5 linked regions of the Homo sapiens genome follow. The protein of the gene in region 1 purifies or fractionates together with the protein of each later gene. This does not show direct contact. Each region holds a gene or a part of one and is shown in the gene's direction. Other genes may lie near its edges. The genes, in order: SLC17A1, RAB31, DLAT, KYAT3 and SDHB.

What was found.
Region 2: the proteins of SLC17A1 (region 1) and RAB31 purify together in Homo sapiens (affinity purification with mass spectrometry; one large-scale study listed by BioGRID and IntAct). This does not show direct contact.
Region 3: the proteins of SLC17A1 (region 1) and DLAT purify together in Homo sapiens (affinity purification with mass spectrometry; one large-scale study listed by BioGRID and IntAct). This does not show direct contact.
Region 4: the proteins of SLC17A1 (region 1) and KYAT3 purify together in Homo sapiens (affinity purification with mass spectrometry; one large-scale study listed by BioGRID and IntAct). This does not show direct contact.
Region 5: the proteins of SLC17A1 (region 1) and SDHB purify together in Homo sapiens (affinity purification with mass spectrometry; one large-scale study listed by BioGRID and IntAct). This does not show direct contact.

Annotation. Positions count from the first base shown.
Region 1 is NC_000006.12:25,829,242-25,833,230, reverse strand, and holds the start of SLC17A1 (sodium-dependent phosphate transport protein 1), read left to right. Parts: upstream 1-1,178; 5' UTR 1,179-1,237; intron 1,238-2,623; 5' UTR 2,624-2,673; coding exon 2,674-2,707; intron 2,708-3,989. UniProt on the Homo sapiens protein: Important for the resorption of phosphate by the kidney. May be involved in actively transporting phosphate into cells via Na(+) cotransport in the renal brush border membrane. Plays a role in urate transport in the kidney.
Region 2 is NC_000018.10:9,707,007-9,711,113, forward strand, and holds the start of RAB31 (ras-related protein Rab-31), read left to right. Parts: upstream 1-1,294; 5' UTR 1,295-1,399; coding exon 1,400-1,438; intron 1,439-1,665; exon of another isoform or gene 1,666-2,987; intron 2,988-4,107. UniProt on the Homo sapiens protein: The small GTPases Rab are key regulators of intracellular membrane trafficking, from the formation of transport vesicles to their fusion with membranes.
Region 3 is NC_000011.10:112,035,396-112,038,913, forward strand, and holds part of DLAT (dihydrolipoyllysine-residue acetyltransferase component of pyruvate dehydrogenase complex, mitochondrial isoform 2 precursor), read left to right. Parts: intron 1-1,877; coding exon 1,878-2,065; intron 2,066-3,518.
Region 4 is NC_000001.11:88,958,127-88,961,644, reverse strand, and holds part of KYAT3 (kynurenine--oxoglutarate transaminase 3), read left to right. Parts: intron 1-138; coding exon 139-264; intron 265-357; coding exon 358-478; intron 479-3,518. UniProt on the Homo sapiens protein: Catalyzes the irreversible transamination of the L-tryptophan metabolite L-kynurenine to form kynurenic acid (KA), an intermediate in the tryptophan catabolic pathway which is also a broad spectrum antagonist of the three ionotropic excitatory amino acid receptors among others.
Region 5 is NC_000001.11:17,018,222-17,020,645, reverse strand, and holds the end of SDHB (succinate dehydrogenase [ubiquinone] iron-sulfur subunit, mitochondrial isoform 1 precursor), read left to right. Parts: intron 1-1,687; coding exon 1,688-1,765; 3' UTR 1,766-1,924; downstream 1,925-2,424. UniProt on the Homo sapiens protein: Iron-sulfur protein (IP) subunit of the succinate dehydrogenase complex (mitochondrial respiratory chain complex II), responsible for transferring electrons from succinate to ubiquinone (coenzyme Q).

The DNA of each region.
Region 1 (3,989 bases):
AAAGGGGTTAAAGATTTACAACATTTCTTTAGAGGAAAAAAATAACTGGTTGAATTTACAGAGCATCTGCTATGTGCCAAACATTTAATGAGCACTTTAAAAGCATGATAAAAATTAAAAAAAAACTTGTTAAGCATGAAATAAATTACCTATAATGCAAAATCACTGATTTTAGTGCTTGGATATTTTTAAGTAATTAGTAGATTACCTTCAAAGAGTTCTAAGTTAAAAGTATTAGGGGCCAGGCACGACGGCTCACGCCTGTCATTCCAACACTTGGGAGGCCAAGGCACAAGGATTGCTTGTGGCAGGAAGTTTGATATCAACCTGGGCAACACAGCAAGACCCTGTCTCTACCAATTAGCTGGGTACAGTGTTGCATACCTGTAATCCCAGCTACTTGGGGCTGAAGTGGAAGGATCCCTTGAGCTCAGGAGTTCAAGTCTGCACTGAGCTATAATTGCACCATAGCACTCCAGCCTGGGTGACAGTGTGAGATCCTGTCTCTCTATGTTTTTTTTTTAATGTTTCTGGATATTGCTATAACCAAGTGGATGAACCAGAACCTACAGTAATTGCAGGAAGAGCCATGAGAGAAGCCACACCTTCCAGAGGACATGCCTCAATAAAATGTACCTCTTTCTGAGTATGCTGAATGTCAAACAGATGTACTGTTTAGAGAGGAGTGTGGAGGAGACAGGGTGAGGGAAGGAGGGAAAGCAAGGAAGGAGGGAGAAGGAAGAAGGGAAAGAGAAGGAAGAAAGAAAGAAAAAAGGAAGAAAAGGAGGAAGAAAGGAAGGAAGGGAATTAAGAGTAAAAATTTAATATGGCATTTATGGGGCATTTAGAAAGCCACAACATTCCTGTGAGAACAGCATTGTATACTCAGAGCCATCCTTAATAGAGAAATCTTGAGAGCACTTATGGCAGGCAAGCTCTACCTCCTGGGCAGGGAGAGAGACTAAGGGTGTCTGCTTATTATGCCATGAAATTACTGGCAGATTCCCAGTTTCTGGTCCACTGGATGATTTTGACCCACACACCTTCCCTGAAGCTTTAAGGAAAAGGTAACAGTAAAGTTAAAAATTAAGCTTTTAACTTCGACACAGTGATGTCAAAAGATTTGGTGAATGATTTATGGGGCTAAACTTGGTAATCCTAGAAAGTCAATATTGTGTAAAGTTGAGAGAAAAGTCTTCACAGCGGAAGAAGAAATCACTTTTTTGTCCCGAATCAGGTTAGTCTACGGGGCTCATTAAATGAAATGAGCAATCAGTTGATTCCCCAGAGGGCCGTAAGGGGGCATTCCCTGGCAAAGATATTATTGAAAGTACTTAGCAATAGGGGAAAATGTGGGGAGGGGTGGAATATGCCCTATCTTCTGAGGCTTTTCACAAGAGAAAAAAGAACATATTTTTAGCAATCAGTGTGAGGTTCACAGGGACACAAGGAAAGAGAAGTATGTGTTGTACAGTGTGTGATGCTTGTATAGCTGTGGTGTGCTGTGTCTGTAATGTGTGTGGCACACTGTGTACGCCTGGTGCATCTGTGCCCATCATTTATGTGTGTGTGTGGTTATGTGTGTGGTGTTTGTAGTTTGTACTTCCGTTTTGAGGATGCAGTATTGTAACGTATTTATATGTTTGGTTTGCTATGTGTCTGGAGTGTATGTGTGGAGAACATAAGGGGAGTTTGTACCATGTGTTTATGTTGTATGTATGTATGTGGTGCATACGTATGGGTGGTTTGTGTGTGCATTTGGTGTGTATGTATATATGTATTGAAATAAACAGCAGCCCCAGAAGAGGTTCCAATGTGTGATAATGATGGTTGACAAATTGCTTATTCAAAAATATTTTGCAAATCCAATCTCAGGACTTTGGTATCTTTGGGGCACTAGGTATCATATAATCTGATATGGTAAAATCCTGAGGTCTAACCTGACCAGCACATATTGGTGCTGAATTCTGATGGTAAGGGGTTGCCTGATAGGAGACTGCTCCATTCTGATTCTCCACTGAGCTTCCTGCCATAAAGCTTTGCATCAGTGGCTGCTCTATCCACGGAAACTGAAGATACGGACAGGGGCATGTGGACGTGTAACGAATGATTAGCCTCTGCTTGAGTTGATCTTATCAATAAGCAGATAGTATCTTCCAGCTCTATTAAGATACAGGGGGAAAAAAGGAATTTGTTTTACCTTTGCTTACTCCTTTTCTGACATTCTTCCTTTCTTTTCATACTGCCGAGTTTCTGACCTATAGCAATCTCCTTCTGCCTGAAAGGCTTCTTTTAGTGTTCCTTACAGGGCAGGTCTACTGGCAATGAATTCTTTCCATTTCTCACTTTGGAGGAATATTATCACGGATTTAGAATTCTGGATTGGCAGGGTTATTTGTTTGTTCTCTGTAGTTTTCAGGTCTTCCATATATTTTTAATCAACCAAAACAATCACAAAAGTAAAATAAATATCAAGGGAAGCACATAATGGAGGTGAATGGGCACTGCTGTGATGGAGCAAGTTATCCTTGGAAGCGGTTTTAAATCAGAGAGGAGTACTGGGTAGTGTTTGGTCAGTTGCCTCTCTACATTATGCTGACATCAACGTGTTTTGCACTCACAGTGGGTGGAGGCAAAACCCTTCAGCAAGAAGAGAAGCAACTTCAGCCGTGTATGCAAATGGATAACCGGTTGCCTCCCAAAAAAGGTAGCACTTTATTCTGTTCCATTAAACAGGTGTTCTTTTTCTTAAATATTACATCACAGATTCCATGTGGAAGAATATTTTTGTGATATACATATGGGGTCTTAAAAATGTTCAGAAAAGAAGGTAGAAGAAACCAGTCCTACTATGGTTTTCCACCAGAAAAGCCCTAAATAAAAAGATTCTACATACTCTGGTGGCTTACACTTTATTTTCATTTTTGCGCACTTGTCAGTTTATCATTTAGTGGAAAATATCAGAAAAAACTGGGCTATTTTGGTTCCATCTCCAAGAGAAAGAGAGATAGATCTGTAAGTGGAAGTAAGGCAGGATGAATGTTCTTGAGTCCCTGCATTCTTGGACATCAACAGCTGAATGTGTACTGAATATTTTTTGAGAGAAGCTGTTTATTTTAGGCAGGGTAGTGTAATGACAATAAAGGATTACTGCTATTGGTTTAGCGTTGTGTCAATGTCATAGGGGACAAAATCCCAGAAAAGGAGATGAGCGATAGATTGTATACTTTTTCAACTTATGAAAAAGTTACTGTATATTAAATTATGTATTTCTTCTTGTATCAACTTTGATACTTAATTATTTTGATTGTTTAAGTTGTCCATTTAATCTGCATTCAAAGTTTATATATATATGTTTTTTTCTATATATTATTCATTTCTGCCCTTATGCATTTAATTCCTTTTAGACTTTTTGGGTTTGTTCCTTTGCTCAGTTTCCAAGTGTTTAAATTCTTTCTTTTTTGATAAATATATTTACAGATGCACATTTTACTCTGTCCATGAGTTTGATATGCGGTATTCTTATTACTCAATCCCAAACACTTTAGAATTCCCCCTGTGGTCTTCTTTTTAACTTAAAACTTGTTTAGACATAATTCATGGACTTCCTGGAGCAATGTGGAGGAGAGAAATGAGTAAAACTCAAAAGCATACCCCTAAATGACTAAGACAATGAGCCCTTCTCTGACATGGTGACAATGACTTCCCTTTTACCATGTAGAGACTCCTGCAGGTGTGTTTACAAAGTTTCTGATAGCTTTCTAGATCCATTCACTTCCCTATGATACTGAGTTTAGGCAGCAAATCAAAGGAAGGGCTGGCTGATGATTAAATTTCTCAGGGGTATTCTTTTACCCCCTTCTATTCAGCTCTTAAGTTCATATGGCACAAAATTTCTTGGCAGTCCACTGACAAGATAAGGGGGCAATGTGTTCATCCTCCATTGAACCATGTAAATCTTTGACATCCAAGCATTTTAGGAGAGGGTC
Region 2 (4,107 bases), on another chromosome or scaffold:
TTGAGTAATCTCTACAAGCCTGCACCTCGAGGGCAAACTTCCTGCTCTTCTGGGGAATTTAATTGTGAATTGTCTGTTTCGGGGCCCATTTTGACTCCTGTATTCCAGGACTTATCTCTTTGGAGGCCTTGATTTGGAATTTCCCATTGGATGGGGCTACTTGGGTACTGGGTAGCTTCAACCTGGCTTCCGTAAGAACAAAGCCAGATGATCACGGTGGGTGGTCTGCTAGGAGAATGGAAATGCCATTGATTAAAATTGGAAGGTTAAGAGAGAGGCCTGAGAGTTTGGGATAGGAGATGAAGTTTCAAAAAATCAGTTTTTAAAAAAACATTTCCCATCTGAAATGCCAGTGAATTGTTCAGATAGATTACATTGAAAAGGCTGACATTTCTGTAGCAGCAACGAATGAAGTCATCCGAGTGGATGAGGTGCTCTAGGCCATACATGGAGAAGAGAACACAGTTACCCAAGCCTCCCCGACTGTGTGCGGCCACAGACTCTGCTCATTTCCCAGTTAGGAACGATGCAGGGGTCTGCTGGGATCTCCACGTTTCTACCTGTACCTCTGAGGACTGGGTTTCTGCCCACACGAGTTGCAGGATTTGCTCTACTGAGAAAAAGACTTTTGCTCCAGAAAGCAAGTTTCCCGTTTCAGACACGGACAGCGAGTTTTGCTTCTAGAATCATTTTCAGCTGCATACAGAAAAATGAACTTGGCTGAGCTGAAGAGCCACACATATGTTAAACGGAAGCTCGGGTATTAGGAACGTCGAGAAAGGCAGGCCGAAAAGTTAGCCCCCTTCTCCTCACCCCTGTCCTCACAGCGGCCCCTTCAGTGGCCTGACTTTTTCTGCGTGGGACCCAGAATGTCGCTTGAGGATGGGACCCCCGCAGACCTCCACGCGCTGCCACGCAAACGGCCTCGGCCGAGAGCATTCGCTTTCCAGATGAGAATGGCATCTTCAGGGACCCGCTGGTAGTGGGGCCAGGTCTCCACAGGGCCGGTCCAGTCCTTCCTACCCACCCGGGCCCTGCGGCCAGGCGGGGCCGGGAGGGGCGGATGCCGGAGGGCGCTGGGGGAGGCCGACCCGCGCGGGGCTGGTCCGAGGGCGGAGGCAATCCGCCGGCGACGCCGCAGGTCCCGGGTGGCTGACGCCGTCCGGGGGCGTTCCTGGGAGCTGGGGGCCGGCGAGGCTGGACCCGACGCGCCCGGGAGGAGCCGGCCGGCGGCCACGTGACCCACCGCGGCGGGGCCGGCGGCCCAGAAATAGCAGCGGCGGCGGTTCCGCCCGCGGGCGGCGCGAGCGAGGGGCAGAGGCGAGAGACGCCGGCGGGGCGCGGGCGCGGCGGCCCCGGAGGATGCTGCTGAGCCCCGGCACTGCCTGGCTGCGAGCACATGATGGCGATACGGGAGCTCAAAGTGTGCCTTCTCGGGGTGAGTCCTGGCCGCCACCCGCCGGCGGACCCCGGCCCGCGCTCTCGCGCCCCTTCGCTCCCCTATTCCCTGCGCGCTCAGTCCCCGTGATCCCCTCGCTCTCCGCACCCCTCTCGTAGCCCCCGTCCCCCTCGTCCGCGCGCCCCCTGGTTCCCCGGGTCCCCCTGGCTCCCCTAGTCCGTGCGCCCCTCGCTCTCCGCGCCCCTCGCTCTCCGCACCCCGCCTGTTCTCCGCCTCCCCGCCGTCCGTGCGCCCCTCTGGTCCGCCCCCGCTCTCACCCTGCCGGGGTCCGGGTCCGAGCCTGCCCCGGGCTTACTCCGCTCTTTCCTCCCGGCCCGCGAGTCCCCGGATCCGCGGCGACCTCGCGGGGACCCCCAGCGGGGACGGGGCAGTGGCGGCGAGTCTGGGGCCCCGAGGGCTTTCTCCTCCGCTTTTGATAGTTTCCTTCCGGCAGAAAGTTTAAGTTGCTCAGCCAAGTCGCTGAGTGCTCTTTTGCCTCCTGGGGGCAATTGATTTACTCACGTAAAACAGAAAAATAAAACCAAAAGCGAACCCAGCCAAGGGGGTGAAAGCCGAGGGCGCGGCCGGGGTGGAAGGTGAGGCAGTGACCTGTGCGGAGCGCGCCCTGCAAACTTCCCTGCTGCGGGTGAAAGAAGCTGCCTGGGAAAGTCCTCCCCACCATCACTCCCCTAAAGTGGGGTTTTCTCCGCCCGAAGAAGCCTTAAAGCAGCCAGAAACAAAAAAGCAGTCAATCCGTGCGGCCCGGGGACTGCAGACAGGGGACCCGGCGAGGACGCAGGGAGCCGCTGGCGAACCGCCCCTGGGAATTCAGATAAACGTAGGGTCGCTTCCTTTCGGGGGCCCACTCCGCATTCCAGAATTCCTTCTTCTAAAAGAAGAGCCGGTTCTAAGGGCGTTTTCAGCAGCCATTAGCATCTGGTGTACCCGCCCGTGTCATTGGCAAAGCTGGTCTCATGAAAACCATTTCCTAAAAAAGGGCAGCGAAAGGGTCGCATTCTTGTGCGAACTGATCTGTCAAGATGGGGGTACAAGAACTGTAGAAAGAGGAAATGATTTCGGTGAGGACTGAATTGTGCCAGCGTCTCTAGGCTTCCTCTAGGCTCTTGTGGAACCTCCGGCAGGCTCCCATCATCGGCTCCCATCACCGGCCTCTTCCAAAACCATCCCTTACGCTAACTCGATTGTCCGGTTGGCTTAGAATTCCAGAGGATCTGGGAAGGCCCTGCCCTCCCTGCTAGCCCCTGGCACAGATCCGCACAGATCCCCACCTCCCCCGACTTGCTCAGCCACAGCCAGGATCTAGTCTGGTCTTTCTCTGTTGACCTTTTTGTGTGGCAGGAGTGGGTTTTCCTGTTCCCCAGGCCCTCTAATATTTCCAGACATAAATTCCAGGAATCCCATGCTTCCCTCTTGAGGGGCCATTTCAGCCTCAGGAAAGGCCTTCAGAGACTTAGAAGGAATGTCGTGTTCCAAGGAATGAAGAGGCAGCCTTGATGTGCCGTGTTTGTCAGGACTGGCCTTGGGAAAGGTGAAATAGGACATATTTTTGCCTTTTTTTCTGCAACTCTTTTCTCTTGACTTTTACTGAGGTGGTCCAAGCCCTGCCGTGTCACAGGACCCCTTATTTTCAGTTTCGGTGTTTAGGGACAGGTCTCTATGTCCTCCTACCAGGACACTGATCAGGTGGCAAGAACCCTGTGTCAAGAGGCAGGAAACCTAGGCTCTCGTTCTTTCCCACCAAAGAGCTGTGTCGTTTTAGCAAAGCAACTCAGTGGCCTCATCTATGAAATGGGCATAATAACATGTTCCCCCTTTAGGCAGAGGACTACACCAGATGATCTCTTAAGATACATGTTACCATTTCCTGCTAATCTATGAGTTCAGGGTGCCAATTAGCAAACCTGGGAGAGGAGGAAGCTGGAGGAAATCTCTTTACTTCTTTTATCTCCAAGAAAGATACACACTCTTTGAGTGGCTTCCTGCAGACAGTGCCTTACCTTTGCCAGTTCTGTGTGTAGGAATTTGAACTTGGAGTTGGAAGAACCATGCCAAAGCAGAGAAAGAAGAGGTTTCTGGGCAGACGGAGGCTTTGAAACATCAATCGTGGCCGGTCGCGTTGGCTCACACCTGTCATCCCAGCACTTTGGGAGGCTGAGGCGGGGGGATCATTTGAGGTCAGGAGTTCAAGACCAGCCTGGCCAACATGGTCAAACCCCGTCTCTATTAAAAATACAAAAAAAAGTTAGCTGGGCGGTAGCGGCGCATGCTTGTAATCCCAGCTACTCGGGAGGCTGAGGCAGGAGAATCGCTTGAGCCTGGGAGGTGGAGGTTGCAGTGAGCCGAAATCACGCCACTGCACTCCAGTCCGGGCGACAGAGTGAGACTCTATCTCAAAGAAAAGAAAACAAAAGAAAAGAAACATCAGTCATATCACACCACATTTGTGGCTTCCTTTTTTTTTTTTTGAGGGTGGCTGTAAGTTTCAGTTTTATTGAAATCAGAGGACATTTTATTTGAAAGACCAAATGACCTTGTTGTCCACACTGAGTAAGATTTGCCACATCCCCTCGTTTGGCTGGCTCTTTCCTGGGTGAGATGTGTGCAGCAGGCTGTGTTTCTAGCTGCTCATCCAATTAGGCTGATTCTCT
Region 3 (3,518 bases), on another chromosome or scaffold:
CAGTGTCACTATAGAGACTAGTCACTAGAGAAGTGTTACCTTGGTTGAACTTTGAAGTCTATTGTGGCCCAGGAGCCTTTTCATTTTAAACACTTCTTTTTTTTTTTTTTGGAAACAGAGTCTGGCTCTGTTGTCCAGGCTGGAGTGCGGTGGCGTGATCTCGGCCCACCACAACCTCTGCCTCCTGGGTTCAAGCGATTCTCCTGCCTGAGCCTCCTGAGTAGCTGGGACTACAGGTGCATGCCACTACGCCCGGCTAATTTTTGTATTTTTAGTAGAAATGTGGTTTCACTATGTGGGCCAGGCTGGTCTTGAACTCCTGACCTCGTGATCTGACTGCCTTGTGCCTCCCAAAGTGCTGGGATTACAGGCGTGAGCCACCACCGCACCCAGCCTTTTTTTTTTTTTTTTTTGAGATAGAGTCTTGCTTTGTCGCCCAGGCTGGAGTGCAATGGCATGATCTTGGCTCACTGCAATTTCCACCTCCCGGGTTCAAGCAATTCTCCTGCCTCAGCTGCCCAAGTAGCTGGGATTACAGGCGCCTGCCACCATGCCTGGCTAATTTTTGTATTTTTAGTGGAGATGGGGTTTCACCATGTTGGCCAGGCTGGTCTTGAACTCCTGACCTCAGGTAATCCACCTACCTTGGCCTCCCAAAGTGCTGGGATAACAGGCGTGAGCCACCGTGCCCAGCCTTAAACATATATATATATATCTCCAGACTTAAACATATATATATGTGTGTGTATATATATATATGTGTGTGTATATATGTGTGTGTGTGTGTGTGTGTGTGTGTGTGTGTGTTTTTTTTTTTTTTTTTTTTTTTTTTTTTGAGACGGAGTTTCGCTCTTGTTGCCCAGGCTGGAGTGCAATGGCACGATCTCGGCTCACCACAACCTCCACCTCCTGGGTTCAAGTGATTTTCTTGCCTCAGCCTCCCGAGTAGCTGGGATTACAGGCATGCGCCACCATGCCTGGCTAATTTTGTATTTTTAGTAGAGACGGGGTTTCTCCACGTTGGTCAGGCTGGTCTCGAACTCCCGACCTCAGGTGATCCACCCGCCTCGGTCTCCCAAAGTGCTGGGATTACAGGCATGAGCCGCCGCGCCCAGCCTAAACATATTTTTTATTGGGTATTCTCAGCTGGGAAATGGAAGGATTCATCAAAGATGTGTTCATCAAGGAGAGGCACAACAGTACAGAAAGCCAATGGCTTCTTTTAGTTTTACTTTTGCAATCCTAAATGTTTAAGTTCTTTGCAAGGAAGGCAGTAGTTGAATAAAATATAAGTTGTCAACACCATAGAAATCCCAGTAAAGCTGTAATTCTTTACATTGAAATACTTGGTATAATATCAAGTATAACCTCTTTGAAAAGTTCCAAAGATGCTTTTAGGGCTGAAATCCAACATTAGTATCTAGGTTGGTAGCTCCCTTAATTAGGCATGTATGTGGTTCTTATCTTTAGCAGCATAGCTGACACCATCTTAGAGTCCTGTGAGTCTGCATGGGGACTGTCCTTGGAGATTTTTTAATAACTTTGAGAACTAACCACTGTCTGTAATCTTTCATAGTTTTATTGAACAGATTTTTATTTGGCATTTACTTTGTACCAGGTTGTATTATTTCTAAGAACTTGAAAAATATTAATCTGTTTAAATGTATAACATCCCAGTACCAATCCAGTGAGATTGGTACTATTATTATCCCCGTATTGTAGGTAAAGAAACCAAGACACAGAAGGTTAAATAGGTTGCAAAAAAGGCTATATAGCTAGCTTGAATGAGAAAAATCACTTTACTTAAAACTGTGCTGTGAGTTTGGAGGGATAGTGGAATCTCTTAAGTCCCATAATGTTTTTTCTTTCTATTTAAGGTTTTGAAGTACAGGAAGAAGGTTATCTGGCAAAAATCCTGGTCCCTGAAGGCACAAGAGATGTCCCTCTAGGAACCCCACTCTGTATCATTGTAGAAAAAGAGGCAGATATATCAGCATTTGCTGACTATAGGCCAACCGAAGTAACAGATTTAAAACCACAAGTGCCACCACCTACCCCACCCCCGGTAGGTATGCTTCTAGAATTCAGGAAACACTTACCTTGTTCATCTCTAAATTAAGGAGTTTTGATTAGATGATATCCTAGGTTCCTTCCACCTCCAAGATTCTATGACTGAGGAGGGAGATAGTTTATTAACATTTGTGGAGACCTATAGTGTTTGTTGTACTGCACTGTTCACCTAATGGTTGATAGTTTGGGCCTTGTAGCTTTTTTCTTCCTGCTATCTAGAGTCCTGCTGAGAACAAAGCTGAGTGACATGTTCTCTTTCTGCTTTAGATACAGATACCATGCTTGTGGAAAGTAAGGCTTCATTGCCCCACCCTTTTTTTTTTTTTTTAAGAGACAAGGTCTCACCCTGTTGCTGAGGCTGGAGTGCAGTGGTGCAATCATAGCTCACTTCATTGCCCATTTATTATTAAATATACTGAATAATCTCTGTCACTTGAAATCCTCTTGTTATTGACTTAGTAGGTCAAGCATATATTTGTGATACAGTGGAACCTTGACATGACTTGTTTTGCCTAGAATTTATTATATCACCAAATACTTGATACACTATATAACTATAACCTGAACTTGTATAACTCCAACCAGAGATAACACTGACAGTGAAGCTTCAGTGATTCTCACAGATGCTAGAATCATGTGAGTTTAAACTAGGTAAACATTTCTATAAGAGAAAAGTTGATTTCTGACTACTGTACATTTGTGGGAAGCTGGCAAGTAGCATTGTTGTTGGATTTCTTTTGTTGTTGTTGTTGAGACGGAGTCTTGCTCCGTCACCCAGGCTGGCGTGCAGTGGCGTGATCTTGGCTCACTGCAGCCTATGCCTCCCGGGTTCAAGCAATTCTCCTGCCTCGACCTCCCGAGTAGCTGGGATTACAGGTGTTAGCCACCATGCCCGGCTAATTTTTTTATTTTTAGTAGAGAAGGGGTTTCACCGTGTTGGCCAGGCTGGTCACGAACTCCTGACCTCAGGTGATCCACCCACCTCGGCCTCCCAAAGTGCTGGGATTACAGGTGTGAGCCACCACACCTGGCCGTATTTCTTAAGATACTTTTCAACATGGGGCCTTACAGCATAATTTTATATTTTGAAATTAGCTGGCTGGGTGTGGTGGCTCATGCCAGTAATCCCAGCACTTTGGGAGGCTGAGGCAGGTGGATCGCTTGAGGTCAGGAGTTCAAGACCAGCCTGGCCAACATGGTGAAACCCCATCTCTACTGAAAATACAAAAAATTAGCTGGGCGTGGTGGTGCGTGCCTTTAATCCCAGCTACTTGGGAGGCTGAGGCAGGAGAATTGCTTGAACCCAGGAGGCGGAGGTTGCAGTGAGCCAAGTTTGCGCCACTGCACTCCAGCCTGGGTGACAGAGCAAGACTCTGTCTCAAATAAAAAGAAAAAAAAAAAAGAAGTTAGGATAATTAAAAATAAAAATCATGTTGGTGATGTAAAAG
Region 4 (3,518 bases), on another chromosome or scaffold:
AAAGCATTTGTTGGTAATTTATTCAGTTTCCTTTGCCATGACTTTCTTTGATGTTTTTTTCCTTATTAGGTTATTCGTTTGTAAGACAGTAAACATGACTTAATTGAATTAAATTATATCTTCATTCTTCATGCTTAGAAACCTGTTTATGGAAAAAGATGGTCTAGTTCTGACTGGACATTAGATCCTCAAGAACTGGAAAGTAAATTTAATTCCAAAACCAAAGCTATTATACTAAATACTCCACATAACCCACTTGGCAAGGTAAGCAAGTCTCATCTCCTTATACAGTCTTCTGACCTATCATTTTCTCACATGTTGAATAATTGGCTGTGCTCTTTCCTTTATTATGTGTAGGTGTATAACAGAGAGGAACTGCAAGTAATTGCTGACCTTTGCATCAAATATGACACACTCTGCATCAGCGATGAGGTTTATGAATGGCTTGTATATTCTGGAAATAAGCACTTAAAAATAGGTACCAACTATAACACAGAGTCACATATCTAAATGTGTTTGGGCACATATGGAAGAACTGATTGGAAAGCATCCCAGACCAACTCTAAAACAGTCTTTGTAATGGGTATCTGTCTGTATGAACACTTTAAAATAGTATTTAAATGAGCAATACTTTAGTGAATTGATGAATAGTTCAAAGGACAAAGAGTAAGAGATTTTGGATCATACTATAAAGCTATGATACCAGAAAAGTAGTTCTTTTGCCCATATATCCCTGGCTTCTTAGCAGAAATCCAGCAATTACTTGGTACATAAGACACAGGGAGCTTTCTTGTGCCTGAAAAGGTTCTAGACGGTCTATGCTGAACAACTTACCAAAATGCCAAGTCAACAGAAAGAAATTACAGGGGTAGTCAGGTATGCTGCTTGGCCCTTGCTTGAGATTCAGCCATTACTACTGGGCTATCTCATGAATGCCGTACTGTCTGCTGGGGTAGTCCAAACCATGTCAACTATAGGATTACAAACTGGGCTGCAACTTTTGGGTCTTCGCACCTCCCTTTCCTTTGCCTGGAAACACTTTTCCTCCAGGTATCCACCTGACTTCAAATATCCTTCACCTCCTTCAGGCCTTTGTCCAATGTCAGTTTTCATGACCATCACATTGAAAATAGTTAACACCTCTCCCTCCAGCATTTGCTTTGTCCTTTTTCTGTTTTGTTTTGTTTTTTCCTCTATAGTAAATATCAGAATCTATATATTTTACTTCTAAACCACAGTAATGGAGGGATTTTGTTTGTTTTAGTCTCTTCTGCATCCCCATTTTCCATAGAATCTTGTACATGGTAGAGAATTAGAAAGAAATTGTTGAATAAATGAAGATGAAAGATGAAAAGATTAAGAGAAGGATGACTAAAAAATGTGGCAGAGATAGATAAATTTTAAAATTTAGGCCAGGTACAGTGGCTCATGCCTGTAATCCCAGCACTTTGAGAGGCTAAAGTGGGTGGATTGCTAGAGTCCAGGAGTTCAAAACTGGCCTGGGCAACATGGAGAAACCCCGTCTCTACACAGAAATTCAAAAAATCAACCAGGTATGGTGGTCTGTGCCTGTAGTCGCAGCTACTTGGAGGCTGAGGTGGGAGGATCCCTTGAGCCCAGGCACCACTGGCTCACTGCAGCCTCCATCTCCTGGGCTCAAGCAATCCTCCCACCTCAGCCTCCCAAGTAGATGGGACTGCAGGCACAGACCACCATACCCGGCTAATTTTTTTTAAGAAAAATAAAAATAAGAAATGTAATGCACTTATATATTAAATTGTTGCATTGTTGCATGTGCCATAATTATTCCTATAGTATATTACAAGTTGCTATAGAGATGGGAAGAGAAAGCGACTGTTTGAGGGGAATAAAAAAGGAGTGGCCAAAAGATAGAGAATTAGCTAAACAGAGAAATAGAAACTAAACTCCTAAAACATAAACTAGCATGTACTTAGATAAGGAGGTATGAAAGATCAAGATACACTTAAGAAAGGTAAATGATTATTGAAATTTTAAAAACAAAGAAGAAGAAAGGTAAATAAGTTATTTAATTTTTTTTTTTTTTTTTTTTTGAGACAGAGTCTTGCTCTGTTGCCCAGGATGGAGTGCAGTGGTGCGATCTCAGCTCATTGCAACCTCTGCCTCCTGGATTCCAACAATTCTCCTGCCTCAGGCTCCCAAGTAGCTGGGATTACAGGTGCATGCCACCATGCCTGGCTAATTTACTTTTAGTAGAGATGGGGTTTCACCGTGTTGGCCAAGCTGGTCTCAAACTCCTGACCTCGTGATCCACCCACCTCGGCCTCCCAAAGTGCTGGGATTACAGGTGTGAGCCACCGTGCCCAGCCTTAATTTTTTTTTTTTTTTAAGAGACAGGGTCTCGCTGTGTCACCCAGGCTGGAGTGCAGTGGCTCAGAGCTCACTGTAATCTCAAACTTTTGCTTTCAAGCAATCCTTCCACCTCAGCCCCCCAAATAGCTATGACTACAAGTCTGCACCCCCTCATCTGGCTAATTTTTTAAAAATTTTTGTAGAGATAGCATCTCACTATGTTGCTCGGACTGTTCTCAATCTCCTAGACTCAAGCGATCCTCCTGCCCTGGCCTCCCAAAGGGCTGTGATTACAGGCATAAGCCATAGAACCTCGCCTCAGTTTGATTTATGAGGGTGTGTTTTAGTAACTGGCATAGATCAGGGTGGAAAACTAGGGTGATTCTAAAGGACTTTGAATATGAGATAGAGTATAAACTTTGTTGAGGAGGTCAGTGGTTCTGAAACTTACTTTAGTGGTAGATCACCATGAGATCACAGTGTTCTACATCATGAAATGGTGATATTGTGAATTCCATCCTGAAAGTAATAGCAATTTTCCTAAAAGAAATCCAACAATTAGAAGCCAATATAAAAATCACACTTCTGTTCATACTTGTCCACAACAAAAAGCTATTGAAATAAACACATTTGAGTTTTTCTGATTTTGCCATTAATATGCATTTACTAAATGCTCATCTGTTTCACTATTGGAGCATCCACTATCAGATAAGTGGTAGTATTTGCTAAAGGCTTAAGAAAATTGTGTGGTAGAAAACTTAACATTGATTTTTTAAAATTCTGCACATTAATTTGATCACCAGAGTGCCAGTGAGCTTACTTTGAGAACTATTGCAAAAGGTGTAACAAAACAGGAGAAATGGTTCCATGACTAGATTTTTTTTTTTTTTTTTTTACAAAGATGAGAGCCAGCCACAGAGGAGGGTCTTAAGCAAATCAGATAACCTAGCAGTGAAGATGGTACATCGGGGCTATTTAGAAACTATAGAGTATAGCATTTGAAGGTGGGAAGAAAACAAGCATGCTACTAAGATCTCTAGCCTGAACTACTCAGCAGTGATGAGACCTTTAACCAGGGTAAATATGGAGAGGAGCAGATTTGTATGGAAGGGCTGAGCAAAGGGAATTCCTGCTTCTCATGCTTTAAACTTGCTGAGTTTGGGTGTCTGTGGGACATAGAAGAATAG
Region 5 (2,424 bases), on another chromosome or scaffold:
TTGTTTGAGACAGAGATAGCATCTTCAGTGGTGGGGCCTGGCTGTGTGTTTCTTCAGAAGCTCTGCGAGTGACTCTAAGGTGCATTCCTGGTCACAAACCTGTGCATGGAGGGGATGGGTGCAGCAGACAACTGAGACAGCCAAGAACAGGTTCTCTGTGCCTTGCCCTCCCTTCTGTAAAACAGGGCTGGAAGTTGGGACTGAGACATAGACATAGGCCGATCATGAAACTGGAAGGGACTTGAAAACCATCAAGTTTAATCCCCTTATACAGATGGGGAAATTGAGCCCCAGGTGGGGAGGGGAGTGACTCGCCCCAGATCACTGTCAGGTCAGTGGGAAGGTAGGACTAGAGTTAGGCCGTCTGCCTCCCCATCCAGTGCTCTTTCTTCCTGCATGGATTGGGTATGTACCAACCTTCTAAGTCTAAACACCCTTACTGACCCTGTGGGGACCGGAAATACACAGGTAGATCCAGATTCAGAAGGATATACAGTGAAAATTCTCCCTCCCACTCCACCCAGCCACCTCCCTAGAAGTCAGATTCTTGTGTGAACTTCAGAGGTGTTTTATGCTGCACACAAATGCATATGTGTCCTCTTCTGTCTTTCTTATATCACATTTATCTGTATTTTTTCACCCACTATATTTTGGAGATTATCCCATGTTGGTATATGAAGAGTGTCTTTTTGACCAGCCTGGACAACATAGTGAGATCCCATCTCTACAAACAAAATTTTTTTTAATTAGCCAGGTGTGGTGGCACGCACCTGTAGTTTCAGTTACTTGAGAGGCTGAGGCCGGAGGATCACTTGAGCCAGGTGTTCCAGGCCACAGTGAACTATGATCACACTTCAGCCTGGATGACAGAGCAAGACCCTGTCAAAAAAATATATATTTTTTCTTTCTCTTCTTCTCTCAAGATCTCTTTTCTTTCTTTCCTTTTCTTCTTTCTTTCCACAACACTTTTTTAGGGGGGTAGACTTATCCTTCTAAAATGAGGGGAACCTTCACTAACGTCAGATGAGTACTTGTCTCATTTTACCAAGTACTTGCTTGGTAAAAGCAAGTACTTGGTAAAGTACTTCCTACTTTCTACTTCAATGAAGCTGGCATTCAGTGGGTTTAATTATTGTGCCTCCTGCAAAGCAGATGTTAACAGCTGTAGGGGCAAACTGCAGCTAATACCAATGGTATTGGCCAGTTGAAATCATCATGGTTTTACAAAGGGTTAATAGAGAGGGTAGTTTCTTCCACATACTTTTGAGAGCTGGTATATGCTGATTTCTGCTGCTGCCTATTTAATAATGATGATGTAAAAGATTTAGAGATGTCTGGCTGATTTTGACATTGGCCTGTAGTCCTAGAAGAGACACTACCCTGAGTGTCTTTGAGCAGTCAGAGAGTGCACCTCTGCCCTGGGCCTGTTTACCTGTTAGAGTGAGCCACACAAGAAGGAATTCAACGTGGCAGAGCTCTTGCCAGAGGGAGCTGACCATCTTCAAATGTTAAAAAAGGTAGACAGAAGAGAGCCCTTAGCCCAACCCCTATGGTTTTGAGGGACTTGATTTGCATTCACCTTGCTTGGACACTGAACCAGCTGAGGAAGGAGTTTCACCCAAGATTGTGGGTTTTCCCTTTCAGTTTCAGTTATCATTTGTTATTGATTCTTTTCTCTTTTTTCAAGGGTCTGAATCCAGGGAAAGCTATTGCAGAGATCAAGAAAATGATGGCAACCTATAAGGAGAAGAAAGCTTCAGTTTAACTGTTTCCATGCTAAACATGATTTATAACCAGCTCAGAGCTGAACATAATTTATATCTAATTTGAGTTCCTTTAAAGATCTTGGTTTTCCATGAATACAGCATGTATAATAAAAATTTTAAGAAATAAATGTTATTCTACTTTATTAACAAAAAAAAAAGAACCTGTTCCTTTACTTGCCGCAGGGGAATGTGAAGGTGCCAGGAGTCCTTGTCCTTGGAGAGATGGACAGGGCTTCAGAGCTGAGCGGGGGTGGGGGTACCCTAGCTGGAAGGAGGTGATGAGCCGTGGAACTGACATCAGCAGGGCCTGCAGCTTGTTCCCAGCTTTGCCACTCACCAGCTAGACAACCTTGGACAAGTTCCTTCACCTCTTTGCTGCTCCATTCGCCCATCTGTAAGATGGGATCCATAATTGTGCCTACTTCATTCATCTGGTATGAGAATGCCTGGCACTTATTCTGAACACTCAGTTAGTGTTAGTGTTCTGTATCTTCCCAGTTTCTATAGTTTTCAGTACCAGAATTACTGAAAACCAAATCTTGGTAAGTCTTTGGATACGTCGGTGAGGCCAGGTTTGAGATTCCTCCAGCACAGAGCAATGACCCTGGTCAGTTGTGAATCCAGTTAGTTCCACAAATGACCTCGTGGGGCCTCTCAC